2 separate regions of the Homo sapiens genome follow, and region 2 is linked to region 1. A link means that fine-mapping ties the variant in region 1 to the expression of a gene that starts in the linked region. Tissue or cell type: whole blood. Region 1 holds a variant in brackets; the other region holds the start of a gene. All regions are shown on one strand. Distances are from middle to middle.

Region 1 (8,111 bases):
CATATTTGTAATAATGAGTCAAAAGAAGAGGAGAGGTTGATAATAAAAATAGAGGTTGAGAAAAATCAACAAAACAGGAAAAGAGCTCCAGAGAACCGGCATATATGTGAAGCTGATGTGATACTCAATTGTAAATACTCTGTAAAGAATACATTTATACATGTGTGAAGCAAGCTAAAGTGAATGAGAAACAACAGAAAAGAAAACTTATTAAGAGGGGATAAAATAATAAGTTATGAAGGCAAACCTTCAGTAATTTGAAGGGAATTTCATTACAAAATGCATTAAATAAATGAAAAGTTGATCATCGTAGTAATGGGTTTTAAGTTTTATGAAATGCTGCTATAATTAGGTTAGAATTTTCAAGTGGAATTTAAGTGATCATTGTTGGAGATGCAAAATATTCATGGAACCTGTAACCAAGATGTTATTAAAGTGTTCAGATAAATACAATTCTGGCACAAAATAATAAGCTTTCATTTATAATTCTGAATCTCTATAAAATTTGCACCCAAGTATTTTTATAGAATCTAATATTCTAACAATTTTTACAGTTTCTGAATGAGAACTTTTGAAAGTCAATTTAGCTTGAATTTGTTTTATATTTGAAAACCCATAAAACTGGATATATAGATATGAAATGAAAAAATAATCTGTTTAAAAACTTTAATTTCATTCTGTCATTACTTCATCTTTTATACAGCAGTGTAACTCCACAAAGGTTTATTTTATTGTCTACAGTTGACTGTGTCATTCTGTCTGTCCATTACTTATGCCTACTACTGAAGTCAATATGTTTATATGCCACAGCAGATAAAGGCAAGGTTTCTTTATTATTAAGGTACATAATGTGATGACTCTAGTGAAAACCTAAAAACAAAAAAATCCTCTATATTCCATTTTAGAAATGTGACATATTAGACAGGCATGGTGGCAAATGCCTGCCTGTGCTGGGGCAGGAGAATTGCTTGAACCTGGGAAGCCAAGGTTGCAGTGAGCTGATTGAGCCACTGCACTCCAGCCTGGGTGATGGAGACAGACCCTGTCTTAAAAAAAAAAAAAAAAAAAAGAATTGTGACTTTCTCATTGTGTAACAATACAAACACTAGTCCATGTCTTTTCTTCAAGTGAAACTGAATGAGATACAACTTTCAGTACATTAACAAGAGAAAAAATTTCATAGACTAGCCATCCGATTCTCCATGACTATTGGTGATACATTCTATTTAAAGGCATTATTTACCTAATATGTCCAAACATTTTTAATGAAAGAGTTTACTTCCCTTTAGATAGAATCACAATAATTTAACTTATGTTTATACTTATATAGATATAACCATAAAATATGGTTCACTTCATAGTTGTGAAAAACATTGTGCACAGAAACTAATATTTTTCTAATGCAGTGAAATAACGGACGTGAAAGATACTATATCTGCACACATATTAAGAATAAAGATGGCTTTTGAATTTATACATGTCTTTTAATTAAACTGAAATATTTTAATGTGTTATTTCAGTTTAATTACTAAAAATAACTCCAAAAAAATGACAAAAACTAAAGGAGAATAATTTTTCTTTGTTTTAGGCCTTTTCTTATATACTAATTATCCATGTGCGCAGCAAGCTCTTTGTAAACTGTAAAGCCCTATGCAAATATATTTTTATTGATTTTTCTAGATCACTAGAGTGATTCTATTTATCAAAACTTGTGACAATTAGGAGAGCAAACATAAAAGAAGGGTTTTATAAAACTGTAAAATTTTATTTTGATTTGTCATAAAGTTTTATAATGATACACCTACACATCCCAGCCCCAAAGTCTTTTTGTGAGCAAATATGTCTTTAAAATTAAAGTAGAATATTCTAATAAAAATGCTAATTAACCAACGTGATGGTTTTATTATCCTTATAATAGACTAGGTGCTATGTAACATATGAATTGTAGCTGATCCTTTTTTGGTTCAAAAACATTTAATTTGGTTTTGAAAATCCTAATTACAGAATGACTCAGTGACTTAGCACAGAGCTAAATAATTGCTTTTGTAGTGAAACAAAACAAATATTCTCAAAGCATATTTTTGTTTGTCAGTGCTGACTTTTCACACAATAAAGGTAAAGGCAAAAAAGTAACTCGAAAGATAGTATAACTTGTGTTACAGAATAATTAATTCTTCCATTCTACACTATATTAAGAGAAATGTCCTATCTTAGATGAACTCGAGTGTGGAGTATACAGGAAAATTAATTGGTATAGAGGAGAACATCTATCCTAAGAGGAGATGAGGAATGAAGGGTGCTTGTGAACCGAAAGTGACTGGGAATGGTGATGGCTTCCAAAGGGCAGAGCTTGTCAACAGGAATTTCTGGTCCATAGCAATCTTTACACACCAGGCAAGGGTCATTTTGTGGCTCCTAGGGCCATCTAATTCCCTGCAGCACAAAGAGCTGCTGGTGTCAGGGATCAGGAGCCACTCTAGGAGAATAGAACTGAAAATACTAGACAAAGTGTCTGGATACCAGCCATGTGGTTAGAGTTTCAGGAAAGAACTCCACCTATAAAGAAAATTTGAGAGTACAACAAAGAACTGGAGTAGAAAAGACAGAATTTGGGGAGAAGGATGAAGCTCAGAGAGCTCTATGATATTTGGAAATCTCTTCAAAGTACTAGCTTCAAAATATGCCTTGATAAGCTTGATTCCAGAGTCTACATTGCTGATTTCCCACATATTTCACTGCAGGAAGTGAAATATACAATGCCTATAACTGAGTTGTGAAAAGTTTTCAAAAACTTTTAAAAAAACAGAAATAATTGTACAAAATCTGTACTCCAACCAGAGTGTGTGTGAATATTTATATGCATATATTTTTAATATGTAATAAAATATATAAAAATATAAATAGAATCATGTAAAGTATAAAATCAACAACATAGGGGGTTGAGATCTGTTGGTTCAGAGAGGAAATCAACATCAAAATGAGCAAATCTCTATAAAATAATAACCAAAGTCAAAAATCCATGTAGATTTCTGCTCTGGTCAAGATGAAGTTATGAGACTAGATGTACCTTCCCACCCTAACCACTAAAAAATAAACATACAAAATCTATAAAACAATGGTATTCAAAACACTGGACATTAATCAAGGAAGCACAAAGATCCCTAAAAGTTGTGAGATAAATAAGATACGTTCTTCCCCAACTTATTGCCTTGATAGAGTTTTTGCGCTGTGCTGCACAAAGACAGGGTACTAAGTAGAGCCTGGCATGTTCCCTAAGTTGAGGTGGATGGAGTCCGGCAGGTCAGACACCCGACAGGAGAGGGTTCTACGGTGGATTCCCCTGGAGTATTCAAGAGAATACTCATCAGCACATGCCTACAAGAAAACTACTGGGAAAA[G/T]CTGGGAAAAGAACTACACAAAATGATGGGTAGGTTTTTGATAAGCGTGACATAAAATACAGGAACCCTCAAGTAAAGACTGATAAATATATTTACATAACAACTTAAAATACTCTGGAAAAAGGCAAAAGGCAAATAACAAACAAATAAAAATATATGCAATACATAAGACAGATGAGGGTCAGCTTCCTTATTATGCCAAAACTCTCATACAAATTAAGAAAGAGACTAATAACTCGATGGAAAAATTCAAACACTGTAAAACAGATATATGTGTAAAAATGACTATTTCGGGATTGTTTATAACTGAAAATGTTCTATATCCTAGCAAGAATGGAGGCATTATTTTGTTACATATATGTTTTGTTTCTATACTATTTTGACCAATCAGAACTGAATAAGTTTGAATCCTTCATTTGCATAAATCCCAAATATATATTGAAATTTATGCAAATAATGATTTGCATAAATAATACTCCAATATATTCTATCCAGAACAAAGTCATTAAATATATTTAATGTGTTACACAAAATAGATTTAATGGCTTTGTTCTTGATACAATATATTGGGATATCATTTAATATATAGAAAGAATATGGGAAATCCATACATCTTAATATGGGCAGAAGAACAAGACAGGTTATTGTGCAAATAAGTCAGAATTGTAGAATAATAATATAATATGATCCTACTTTTATAAAATTAAAAAAATACATTATATGTTTATGTAATACAAAAAGAAAATAAAGTGATACAAGTCTGTGAAAAGACTTATCTAATGATTAACATAAGAAAATGACATGCCAATAACCAATAAATCTATGAATATATAGTTATGTTAAATGACACATTGAAAAAAGTTGAAAACATCAGTGTGGACAACTGCTAAGTAAAACAGAAACTCTCAAATATTTGGTTTTAATATAACAAGATTGAACACCTTTGGTAATCGATAAGGCAGCAAATATTGAAACTATTTCTTTTTTTTTTTCTTTTTCTTTTTTTGAGACGGAGTCTCACTCTGTCACCCAGGCTGGCATGCAGTGGTGTGATCTCAGCTCACTGCAACCTCTGCCTCCCAGGTTCAGGCGATTCTCCTGCCTCAGCCTCCCAAGTAGCTGGGACTACAGGCCTGCACCACCATGCCCGGCTAATTTTGTATCTTTTAGCAAGAGACAGGATTTCACCATATTGGCCAGGCTGGGTTTTGAACTCCTGACCTCAAGTGATCTGCCCTCCTCAGCCTCCCAAAGTGCTGGGATTACAGGCGTGAGCCACTGCACCCAGTCGAAACTATTTTTTTTTAACTAGAAATCCTGCTTGTAGAAATCTATTACATAGACAAGTGAGGAAGAACAGATGCATACAGGTAGCCAGTACTTACAATAGTCAAACTAATGTGAAATAAAACTGTAAAATAAGACCCAAACCTCCCCAGATCAGAGAGACTCCCTGTGGCTAATAAAGATGCTCTAAATTTAAAAGCATAAACAGGTAGCAGAGCAGGAAGAGATAGAGTCCTGGCATATACTTGGGTTCCTAGCAAAAGCGGCTCTTGACAAACATTCTGCTTTACCTTGCAGAGTCAGAAGAGTTCTTGTAACCAGAGACAAGATAAACTCAGGCCAGAAACACACCTCACTGACCATTTGAAATAAGTACCTGACAGAAACTTCTGGTTTGGGGCTTAGAAACAACTCAATTAGGGCTTAACTATTTTGACCAATCAGAATTGAAAGGTTTGAATCCTTCATTTGCATAAATGAACCTGGTAAAGTACTTAGGTGAGAACTTTTCCTATTTAAGCCAGATCCTTTCTTTGTTCATTTACATTTTCACTTGTGCTGAAGGCTCTGTCTCCCCAGTCTGCAGATTTTTTTTTAATGGAAAATAAAGCTCTCCCTTTTCCTTCCACAGATCTCATGGACCTTTGTTAACACCAAAAACAAGTTAATGACCATTCATAAGAAACTACTTTAAAAATTAAGGTTTTAAAATATAATTAATATTCTTCAAGTTTTTAAAAAGATGTGGTATAAGGAGAATTTTTTGATGTCAGTTTGCCTCTCCAGATCCACTCCCGTCTCTCTCCACCAAGTTTTGTGCTACCTAGACTTGTAAATAAGATTTCTTGACCTCTGGACCCATAAGTTTTCTTGACCTCTGCCCTCTTGTTGAGTGGAAGAGGAAGATGAGCTAGGGTTCTCTGCTCTCCCCACTCCCTGCTGGGCCACTAAGGTTAGAGTGGGCAGATGATTTTCATTTCCTGTAAAACAGGCCTATCTACACAATTCTCTCTGATGTCAAGGAACGCTACACATTAAGCCATTGTTTTTTAAAATCCAATACATTACCTTCAAAATAAAATATGTGTCCATATCTATTTCTATGTATCTATCTTCTATTATGCATATGAATATACCTATCTATATCTCATTAAATTTCAATTCATTTATTTATATACATATAACTAAAATAGTATATACATTTACAACTATTTTTAGTTGAATTTCGTACATAAATAATATAACTCTTCCTTGTAGCTAATGAGCAATGTCAAAAGTCTGAAACTTATATCATCAAATAAAATTACTAAATGTGCTTTATGTTTAGAAAATATAAGGTTTTGGTATTTTTAAACTGTTTATTTTCTTATGAATATGAAGAAAGATTTCTCTGTATTTGTGAGAAATGTTTTTCTTTTGTGCTATCAGACTGAAGTGATAAGTTTTACTTGGGAAGCTACTATTTTACATGTGTTAAATGAAAGAGTATATTTTATTTATTTCTATTTTACTTAGGAAGCTCCAATATTGTTTAATATAAGTAGTTGATATTCTGAAACCCTCTCACTTATTATTTCTACCCCAAGATTAGCGGCTCCTTTAAAATACTGGAATATGCTTTGAACGAAGGACATAACACAAATTAATAGAATCTCTGACTAACGCATAAAAAACTTCTTCTAATGTAACCATGGTTTTATCATTGAACATTTCTATTGTTAGTTCCCTATTCTAGTGGGGAAAGGCAAAACAGCAGGACTTTTTGATATCAAGATAATTTGAATGTGAAATGATAGAATATAATACAAAACGAAGATAGCTGAACTTTATGTGAGTATGGGTTTAAAAATATTTTTTTTATTTACAAAAGGTAATATAGATTCCTATACCAAAGCAATACCTCTAATTTGAAGCATTGTTTATTTTGAAGAATGAATTACATGATGACACATTAGGGCAAACTGTCAGTACTGGTGCTTAAATATTGTGATTACAACTATTACAACTATTATTGCTAGTCAGGGGCAGAGATCACTTCGCTTGAATTCCTTGATGATAATTTATTGCTAAAATGCGGTATAAAAGGGATAGCTACAATCAATGGACCTGTAATTTATATATCTGTGATAGATATTTAAGGTTAGAATATTTATTGTTAAAATAATATGGTCCCTAAAATGTGGTATAAAAAGGATAGCTGCAATCAATGGACCTGCAATTTATATATCTGTGGTAGATATTGTCAGGTTGCTATGTACAAAGACAATAAAGAAGGCAAACCAATGGGAAAAATATCAAAGATTCAAGCTGAATCAAAAGCAAGGATATTTTACAATAAGGTTTTATTAAGATAAGCTTTAACATTAATAAATGTTAAATTAATAAATTTTACCAAGGGTAAAGTTTGGTTTTCTCTCTTTTTTTATTTCTAACATGTTTATTTTAAAGTCCTTTGAAAAGGTTTCATAAGACATGGTAAAAAGTGAAGCAGCAAGATAACATTTGTGTTGTAGTTTTCATAACTTAATTTGCTCTTTGCAAGCTAAATGTTCTCACAAATTCTTGTCATTTGGGTAATGTTTATATTAAACATTTCATACCAATTAGCTTTTAAGCAAAACCTTTTCCTAGATCATCTATATTTTCTTATTTTTTTTCTTTTGACATTTATTTTAAGTTTGGGGTAGGTGTGCAGATTTTTCATGTGGGTAAATTGTGTGTCTCTGAGATTGTGTGTCTCTGAGGCACATGAATAATCCTGTCACCCCAGTAGTGAGCATAGTACCTGATAGGTGGTTTTTCAACCCATGCCTTGTTCCACCCTCCCCACTCAAGTAGTTCCCAGTGTCTGTTGTTTCCATCTTGGTGTCTATGTGTATTCAGTGTTTAGCTCCCACGTATGAGTGAGAAGATAACAGTATTTGGTTTTCTGTTCCTGTGTTAGTTCACTTAAAATAAGGGCCTTCAGCTGTATCCATGTCACTGCGAAAGACATAATTTCATTGCTTTTTATGGCTGCATAGTATTTCATGGTGTATATGTGCCAAGTTTTCTGTATCCAGTTCACCGTTGATGGGCATCTAGGTTGATTCCATGTCTTTGCTATTGTGCATAGTGCAGCAGCAAACATATCAGCACATGTGTCTTTTTGTTAGAATGATGTATTTTCCTTTGGATATATACTCAGCAATGGGATTCCTGGGTAGAATGGTAGTTCTAAGTTTTTTTTGAGGAATCTCCACATTGCTTTCCACAGTGACCAAACTAATTTACACTCCCACCAGCAGTGTGTGTGTTCCCTTTCCTCTGCAACCTCACAGGCATTTGCTATTTTTTAAACTTTTTGTTAGTAGCCATTCTGACTGGTATATGATATCTCATTGTAGTTTTCATTTGCATTTCTCTAATAATTACTGATGATGTTTT
Region 2 (8,111 bases), 570 kb before region 1:
TCACCACCTTGACCTGGTAAGGATGTGGTATTCCACTGCTAGATCTACAGGGGCTAGGAGCATCTCTAGCAAGAAAGCCATAAACTCTGACTTCCTACCCAATCAATCACAGTCTTTCAATAGTAACCTCTTCTTATATTTCTGCCTTTGGCATTTTCCAGAATCTTACAGTTGTTTTTAATAATCTGGCCAGTTTTCATCATTGTTATCTGCAGGGGAATCTGACCTCTTCAAGCTACTGTTCCTTGAAATGTCCCTGGACTATTTTAATAGCCTCTTATATTGTATTCCTGTTTCTTCCCTTAATTTCCTTCACCTTTCTTACCTTCTCTTCTCCACACAGAAACCAGGTGATTTGAAACATAAATCACACGGTATCACATCACCACACAAAATTCTCAAAGAGCTTCGCATTTCACTCAGAATAAAAGCCAAATACTGAGTACAGCCTACAAGTTTTATGTGAGGATGTCCTGGGCTACCTCCAAATGCCATCTCTCACCGGTCTCACCAAGACTGCTCAGCTGTGTTTAAAATGCACCAAGCGTGCTCCAGCTTGGGCACCTGCTGTTCACTTCACGTGAAAGATATCCCTTTCTATATATTAGCTGAATTACCTTTCACAGTATCCCATCAGGCAGGTACTAAAGTTACCCCCATTTTACAGATGAGGAACTAATGTACAACGAGTTGAAGTAAATTGCCCAAGTTAGCACAGCTACTAAGTGCTGGAGTCAATATTTGACCCCAGGAAGTCTGTCTGGAAAGCCATAATTTATGCACTGAAAAGATAGTTATTTCTAACATATTTGCTTTTTATTTTAGAGAATTAAATATTTTATTCTAGTTCTTTTTAGACGAACAATGAAGAAGAAACTCTTAGGACTCTAATGAGACAAGAAGATCACCTGGCACATGAAACCTACTGAAATGGACACACTGAGGACTTTTAGAAAAAACTTTGTTCCATAAAACACCAAATGATTGTGCCGAACATCTGTTAGTGTGCTTTTCCAAACTGTGCATTGCGCTCTGGGAATTATGTTTACTTGTAACTCCTCACAAAATATCAGCAGAAGACTGAGAGGTGACAGCGTGCCGGCAGCCCTCACTCGCTCTTGGCGCCTCCTCAGCCTTGGCGCCCACTCTGGCCACGCTTGAGGAGTCCTTCAGCCCACCACTGCACTGTGGGAGCCCTTCTCTAGGCTGGCCGAGGCTGGAGCTGGCTCTCTCAGCTTGCAGGGAGGTGTGGAGGGAGAGGCACGGGTGGGAACCAGGGCTGCGCGCCACGCTTGCTGGCCAGCGCGAGTTCCGGGTGGTTGTGGGCTTGGCAGGCCCAGCACTCAGAGCAGCCGGCCAGCACCGCTGGCCCCAGGCAGTGAGGAGCTTAGCACCCAGGACAGCAGCTGCGGAGGATGCACCAAGTCCCCCAGCAGTGCCGGCCCACCAGCGCTGCTCTTGAATTCTCACCGGGCCTCAGCTGCCTCCCTGCGGGGCAGGGCTCAAGACCTGCAGCCCGCCATGCCTGAGTCCCCCTCCCCCCCACCGTGGGCTCCTGCGTAGCCCAAGCCTCCCCAACGAGCACCGCCTCCTGCTTCACAGTGCCTGGTCCCATCGACCGCCCAAGGGCTGAGGAGTGCGGGCGCACGGCATGGGACTGGTGGGCAGCTCCACCTGCAGCCCCAACGTGGGATCCACTAGGTGAAGCCAGCTGGGCTCCTGAGTCTAGTGGGGACTTGGATAAACTTTATGTCTAGCTAAGGGATTGTAAATACACCAATCAGCACCCTGTGTCTAGCTCAAGGTTTGTAAATGCACCAATCAGTGCTCTGTGTATAGCTGATCTAGTGGGGACTAGGAGAACTTTCATGTCTAGCTCAGGGATTGTAAATGCACCAATCAGCACCCTGTCAAAATGGACCAATCAGCTCTCTGTAAAATGGACCAATCGGCAGGATGTGGGTGGGGTCAGATAAGAGAATAAAAGCAGACTGCTGGCGCCAGCAGCGACAACCCTGTGGAAGCTTTGTTCTTTCACTCCTTGTGATAAATCTTGCTGCTGCTCTCTCTTTGGGTCCACACTGCGTTTGTGAGCTGTAACACTCACCGCAAAGGTCTGCAGCTTCACTCCTGAAGCCAGCGAGACCACGAACCCGCCAGAAGGAAGAAACTCCGAACACATCCAAACATCAGAAGGAACAAACTCTGGACACGCCGCCTTTAAGAACTATAATACTCACTGAGAGGGTCTGTGGCTTCATTCTTGAAGTCAGTGAGACCAAGAACCTAACAATTCCGGACACAAGACCATACTCCTTGTGAGTCCCTAGTGGAAATCTATTTCAGTCTCCTTACAGCTCCTTAAACATACCTTGTAGGCTCCCTCGTCAGGGCATTTCTGTTTCCTGTTGTCACTAAATGGACTGCTTTCCCTCCAGAGATCTTCATGGCTCGGTTTTTTTCTTATCTTTTCAGCGTTAGAGTCACCTCAGTGAGGTCTTGCCAGGACAACTTACTTAAAAATGCAAACATTTTCCTCTTCTTCCCCTTACTTACTCCTCCCTTATCTAGTATACTTTTTTTCTTACAGCACTAAAAAAGTTTCAAATCAGATGACCCAGGTTTGAGAATCTTCCATTATCAGCTATATCCCTTGCAAATTAACTCCTCAAGTTATAATTCCACAAATCGACAATAACAGAACCTATCTTGCAAGGCTGATGTAAAGATTAAAAGAGAAAATACACATGAAGACACTTAGCACACTACAGGGTATATAGTAAATATCAAATAATCCAATTATTATTAGAATATGTAAGACAATCTGACTCTACCATTGTCTGGAGACCAGGCTAAACACGTATTAAAGTCTTACACTCTAAACTTGAGAGTAGTTTCATTTTATTTATTTAAAACTAACATGAGTAACTCATTAATTCCTCCATTCAACAAATATTCATCCAGTATCTAATGTATGCCAAGTATTTTACCAAGTGCTGGGAATACATCAGTTGACAAGTCAGACAAAGACTCTGCTCTTTTGGAGTTTAAGTAAAATTGTCATATCATAAGTGCCATATATTTATTATGAGAGCAAACTGAAGAAGTGCCTAACTTTTCAATAACAATTACTTAAAAAAACAACAACAGTATTTACCAAGTGCTATTATAAGAGGTCCCTCTAGTGATGCTTTGCATTCAGAGAATGCTCAATGAATAAAGTTCACTAGTAAGGGTAACTTTGGGAAGTCTAGAAGGAAAGTAAAAATCCCAGAAGCCTGTTGGTGTCCATCATTCTACTTCCAAAATATGCTTGCCTGAGAAGAATCTACATTTCTTGAGGGTAGGAAAAGCTTGAGCCTACAAAAATTCAAGACACATATTAGGTACTTTAAAATAGTTTTTAAATGAAATAGTGACTATCCGAATACCATCCTAGTCCAAGATACAATCATCTGTTGTACTACTGAGGTAGTCTCCTAACTGGCCTCTCAGCTTCAGCTTTTGCCCTAGTCTATTCTTCAAATAATTCACAGTTATCTTTTCAAATGTGAATTAGGTCACTATGTTGCCTAAATAATCCCAAGGGTTTCCGTCACACTTAAAATCCAAAATCCTTCCAAGGCCTAGAAAGGCCTGTGCCATCTGGCCTCTGCTTGCCTCCCGTCCTGCACCTGCAGCCCCTCACCTGGCTAGAGCCAAGCCTAGCCTGCGGTTCCCACCGCCTGCAACCCCTCCCTGTGGCTCTGCAGCTAGTGCCTTCTCATGTTCCTGACCTCCTAAATTGAGGCAGCCTCCTTACACAATCCCTACCACATTACACTGTTTTTATTTTCTACTTCATTACCACCACTTGAAATTATCTTTATTAACTGTTGAGTAATCTTCCACCACATGCTGGCATTTATAAAACCTGTGAGAGCACTGCTCCCCTAGTTTCCCTAGCGTCAATTATTATGGAATTACTAGATGAAGGAACTCCCCTGCCCTGTTTCCTGCTTTCTTTAAATTGTGGACATACACAAGCACCCAAAGAAAGAGTGATCCTGATTCCAAAGAACATCCCCACCCCACCCCTCAACTAATCCGACCCCTCCTCGGTTTCCCAGCGGGCCGCCCCGCCTCCGCCGCCACGCACCTGGTTCTGCTGGCTTCCACCAGGGGGCTCGCTTCGTCTGCCGGGACCTTCTCCTCCGCCTCCCTTCCCGCCCCGCCTACCCCACCACCCACCTGCTTCCCACTCTGCTTCCACTAGGGGGCGCGTCTCTGAGGGCAGGGCCTCCGTCTCCGACGCTGACTTCCTCAGCGCAGCCAGCACTGTCTCCGGTGGCAAGTCGACCAGCTCCTCCCACACGGATTCTGTGTAGAAATCCACGGTATGTGCATTGGAAATGGACAGGGCATCCCTCAGGAACTGCAGCAGTCCCTGCAACTTGGCACGCAGCGTGGGCAGGTCCGGGGTCACCGGGAGAGGGCAAGAAGCCGCCATGACGCTCACCCTCCGAGGCTGTAGGTGGCGCAAACATGGCCGTGAGGCGCCAGCTCGGCCCAAATTAGCACAGGCAGGCTCAGTAGAGCTCCGAGCCGGATTCCTTCTGAGCGATTGATTGCTTCGGCTTGGTGACGTATTTTGTGGGCGTCCGTCGTGGTCTTCTGATGACGCAGTTAGTCGGCTGCAATGGCGCCGGTGAGGCGGTCCGCGAAGTGGCGGCCTGGTGGTATTGAGGCGCGTGGTGAAGGGGTTTCCACTGTCGGGTACAGGAATAAGAATGTGAGACAGAAGACATGGCGGCCTAACCACCCGCAAGCCTTCGTGGGGAGCGTTCGCGAGGGTATGTAAGAAGGCAACCATTTGCAAATCCTCAGGCTTGCTAAGTTTTAGGATATAAGATTCGCTGAAGCTTGGAAGAAGGATTTAGGAACCAGACCCGGTCCTACTTGGGGCAAGGGAATTCATTCCTGAGCCCGCTAAAGCTGTGAGCTTCGCAGAGCTCTAGATAGGAAGACGGAGCAGTGTTGCTATTATTTAAACGTCTTTTCTGACGTAACCCTGTATTTCATCAGAACTTTTTTCCTATATTTTTCCTGAGAAACTGAGCAGAGAGAGTCTATGACCCTGTGAACTCTTGCGCATGTGGTAAGGTAAAGGATAGAGAGGAGGACAGGGCCAGAAACACTGCTCCGAATTCTTCCTTATTACAAATACCCGAGGCCCTCCAGCCTTCGCTTTAATTTGTGTTTGTCATTTTGTATTGCTGTCTGTAAGGTCTCTTAGATCCCACTTGGAATATATAAATGTTAAATTCAGTCTTCCGATAATTGCTAGCTTTTCAGACAACCATACACTGTCTTTTTCTTTCGTGTTGAAACATTTTCGAAAACATGTAGTTTGTCCAAGATACTAGATGTGGCATTTTCTTTCCTATTTTTTAAGCATTTATTGAAGGCTCAGATTAAGTGTTTTAGATGAACTAAGGAATTTGTTTTGATTTGTGAATACAGCTGTAAACTCAAGTTGTGCAACAGTCTGAACTGGTCAGTTTTTCTTTGAGATTCTTACTTGGATTTCCGCATGACTGTTAGCCTGGTCTTTTTGCAAAGGGCCAACTTACTATGCAATCCATCAGCTTAAATTTGTTGCTTGAAATAATTTTTTAAAGCAAAATATAATACTAGAATCTGAATGTGATGACGTAAAAAAAGTTTTCATTTGTAATTAACAGCTCCATTCTTCGTTCAACTTCTTTTCTCTGAAAGTAATTTTGGATGATATTCCTCAATGTAGGACAAGGCTTTGCTTTTCGAAGAAAACTGAAAATACAGCAAAGTTACAAGAAATTGCTACGGAAGGAAAAGAAGGCTCAAACGTCACTGGAATCTCAATTCACAGATCGATACCCAGATAATCTGAAACATCTCTATTTAGCTGAAGAGGAAAGACATAGGAAGCAAGCAAGAAAAGTCGACCATCCTTTGTCAGAACAAGTTCACCAGCCGTTGCTTGAAGAACAGTGTAGCATTGACGAGCCTTTATTTGAAGATCAGTGTAGCTTTGACCAGCCTCAGCCAGAAGAACAATGTATTAAAACAGTAAAGTATGTATTTTCTTCATTTGAAATCCTTTAAGTGTTGTTTTATTATTTAAAAGTACTATAGGATAATTTATATAGGAATTGTATTTTTTCTTATTTAACACATTTTAGAAGTCACGGTTTAATTAGGGAAACATTTTCATGGAGGCTCTATTTTTAGCTTCAATAACTGAATTAGGCTGGTTTAGCCTAATTGACAAAGTAACGTAATGGGAATTAAGAGCTCTGGAATTTGGGTTTCTTCCTCTCAAGTACAGGTGGTAACTTGATTGGACCATATGTTATGACTATATTTTTGAAAAATAACTTCTGAGAGGTGTTATAATTTTAGTCATTAACAGTATGGGTTCTAGAGCCAGACTCAACATGTTAGTGCCCCAGTGACCTCTTCTTTAAAATGGGAAAAATAACACTATGTCCTCTTTAAATTGGGAAAGATAATACTGTAATGAATATATACTTCAGAGCTGCCATGTTGCACAGCTCCAGAATGGATTACTCACATAAACTCAGGTGTTCCTAAGGTGTTTCATGACATTGTTGTGAAGACTCAGCGAGTTAATGTATATGAGGATCTTAAAGGGTATATATGGTACGTGGTTAGTGCTCTTGAGCGTTAGCTACTACTATTAATCTGGATTTTCTGCAGAGGACCAGAAATGGGTTGCAATTGCAAATGCACAGCTCCGTGACGCTTTGGTTTTATAAGAGTTAACTTATAAAAAACTATCGCTGCATACTTAAAGTTAAAAAACAATGCTAAAATCTAAAATTGCAAGAAGCTGGGTATTAACTTGGGAGCATAATTTTTTACTTCATTAAAACCGTATCTTTTAAAGTCGTGAGCTATTTGCGCTAAAAATAACAGGAAATGGGACCACGGGGGGTAAAAATGTAATTGGGGATGAAGGCAGAGACACAAAAAGTTTACTACTTTTGGTAGGCTTGATCATTATATTGTTAAATAATCAGTATAAAGTTCAGGGAAAAGATTAGCAGTAGAAATGTAGATTTGAGTTATTCTCTGATAATTGAAGTAAGGAAGTTTAAATCATGAGAAAGGAAGGTAAAAAATCATGCTTTTAAAGATTACGGTTTATTTTGGGGTGGAAACAGGGAAAATATTGTCATTGAGGAAGTTAAGCTTTTCAGGACTGGAGAAAGAGAAATACAGTGACAGCTCAGTCCACAGAGAAAAGTTGTGAGGGATTAGTCAGCTATCAAATATTGTGGTCCCCCGTTATCTGTTTGGAAGATGTTCCAAGACCCCCAGTGGATGCCCTGAAACTGCAAATGGTACCAAACCCAGTTTCTGTCAATTGGAATGTATTTCTGTTAATGTCTTTTACTTGGGAATTTAATGCCTTTTCCATCTTAAATCACGTACTGTGGCCATAACTTTTGCAGTTTGAAGTATGACAGCAAAACTAGCATGAATTTATTTTTCCTTCACAATTTGATGTATAGAAGATTTTTTTTAAAACCATAGATCTTAGCAACTTCAACATACGATTTTTTTTCCTTCCTTATTAAGTCAAGAACTTTTACCTTTTCACTTAAAGCAAACACTCAGTGTGGTGTACAATTTAAAACATATGAATTGTTTATTTCTGGAATTTTTCAATTTAATATTTTTGGACCTCTGTTGACTGCAGGTAACTGAAACCGTGGAACAGGGAAACCATGGATAAGGGGTGTGCTACTGTACTATAAAGTTGAAGGTGAATAGGACTGAGGACAGGTCTCTGGATTTGTGGACTAGGCAGTCACTAGTCACTAGTCCAAAGTCGCTAGTGATTAGTAGCTATTAAAATATTATATTGTAGTTACAGAGTATAGTGAAAAGTTGAATGATAGAGGAAAGTAAAGTTATTACTGAATCAAGGATGCTGAGGAAATGAATGGAATTCCAAGTAGTTGGATTAGCCTTGACAAAAAGGACATCTTCAGAGAGGTGAGAAGTAGTTAAAGATAGAACAGTTCAAAATGGTATCTAGATCCAAGGTATGGTGATTCATG

The links. PIP is the estimated chance that this variant, and not a neighbour inherited with it, causes the effect.
Region 2: CCDC59 starts here. The variant in region 1 is fine-mapped to the expression of CCDC59 in whole blood (INTERVAL, PIP above 0.99).

The regions. Positions count from the first base shown.
Region 1 is chr12:81,780,475-81,788,585 of GRCh38, reverse strand. No RefSeq gene overlaps it. Among named protein-coding and RNA genes, the nearest start is that of PPFIA2, 25 kb to the right of the region's middle. The variant G/T (reference allele first, on the strand shown) is at 3,399.
Region 2 is chr12:82,354,944-82,363,054 of GRCh38, reverse strand. It overlaps CCDC59 (coiled-coil domain containing 59), which reads left to right and starts at 4,668. Exons shown (of 4, transcript NM_014167.5): 1 at 4,668-4,832; 2 at 5,786-6,095. The coding sequence starts at 4,679. METTL25 (methyltransferase like 25) reads right to left here and starts at 4,526. Exons shown (of 12, transcript NM_032230.3): 1 at 4,231-4,526. The coding sequence starts at 4,489. RefSeq lists enhancers at 3,738-4,298, 4,229-4,788, 4,299-4,859.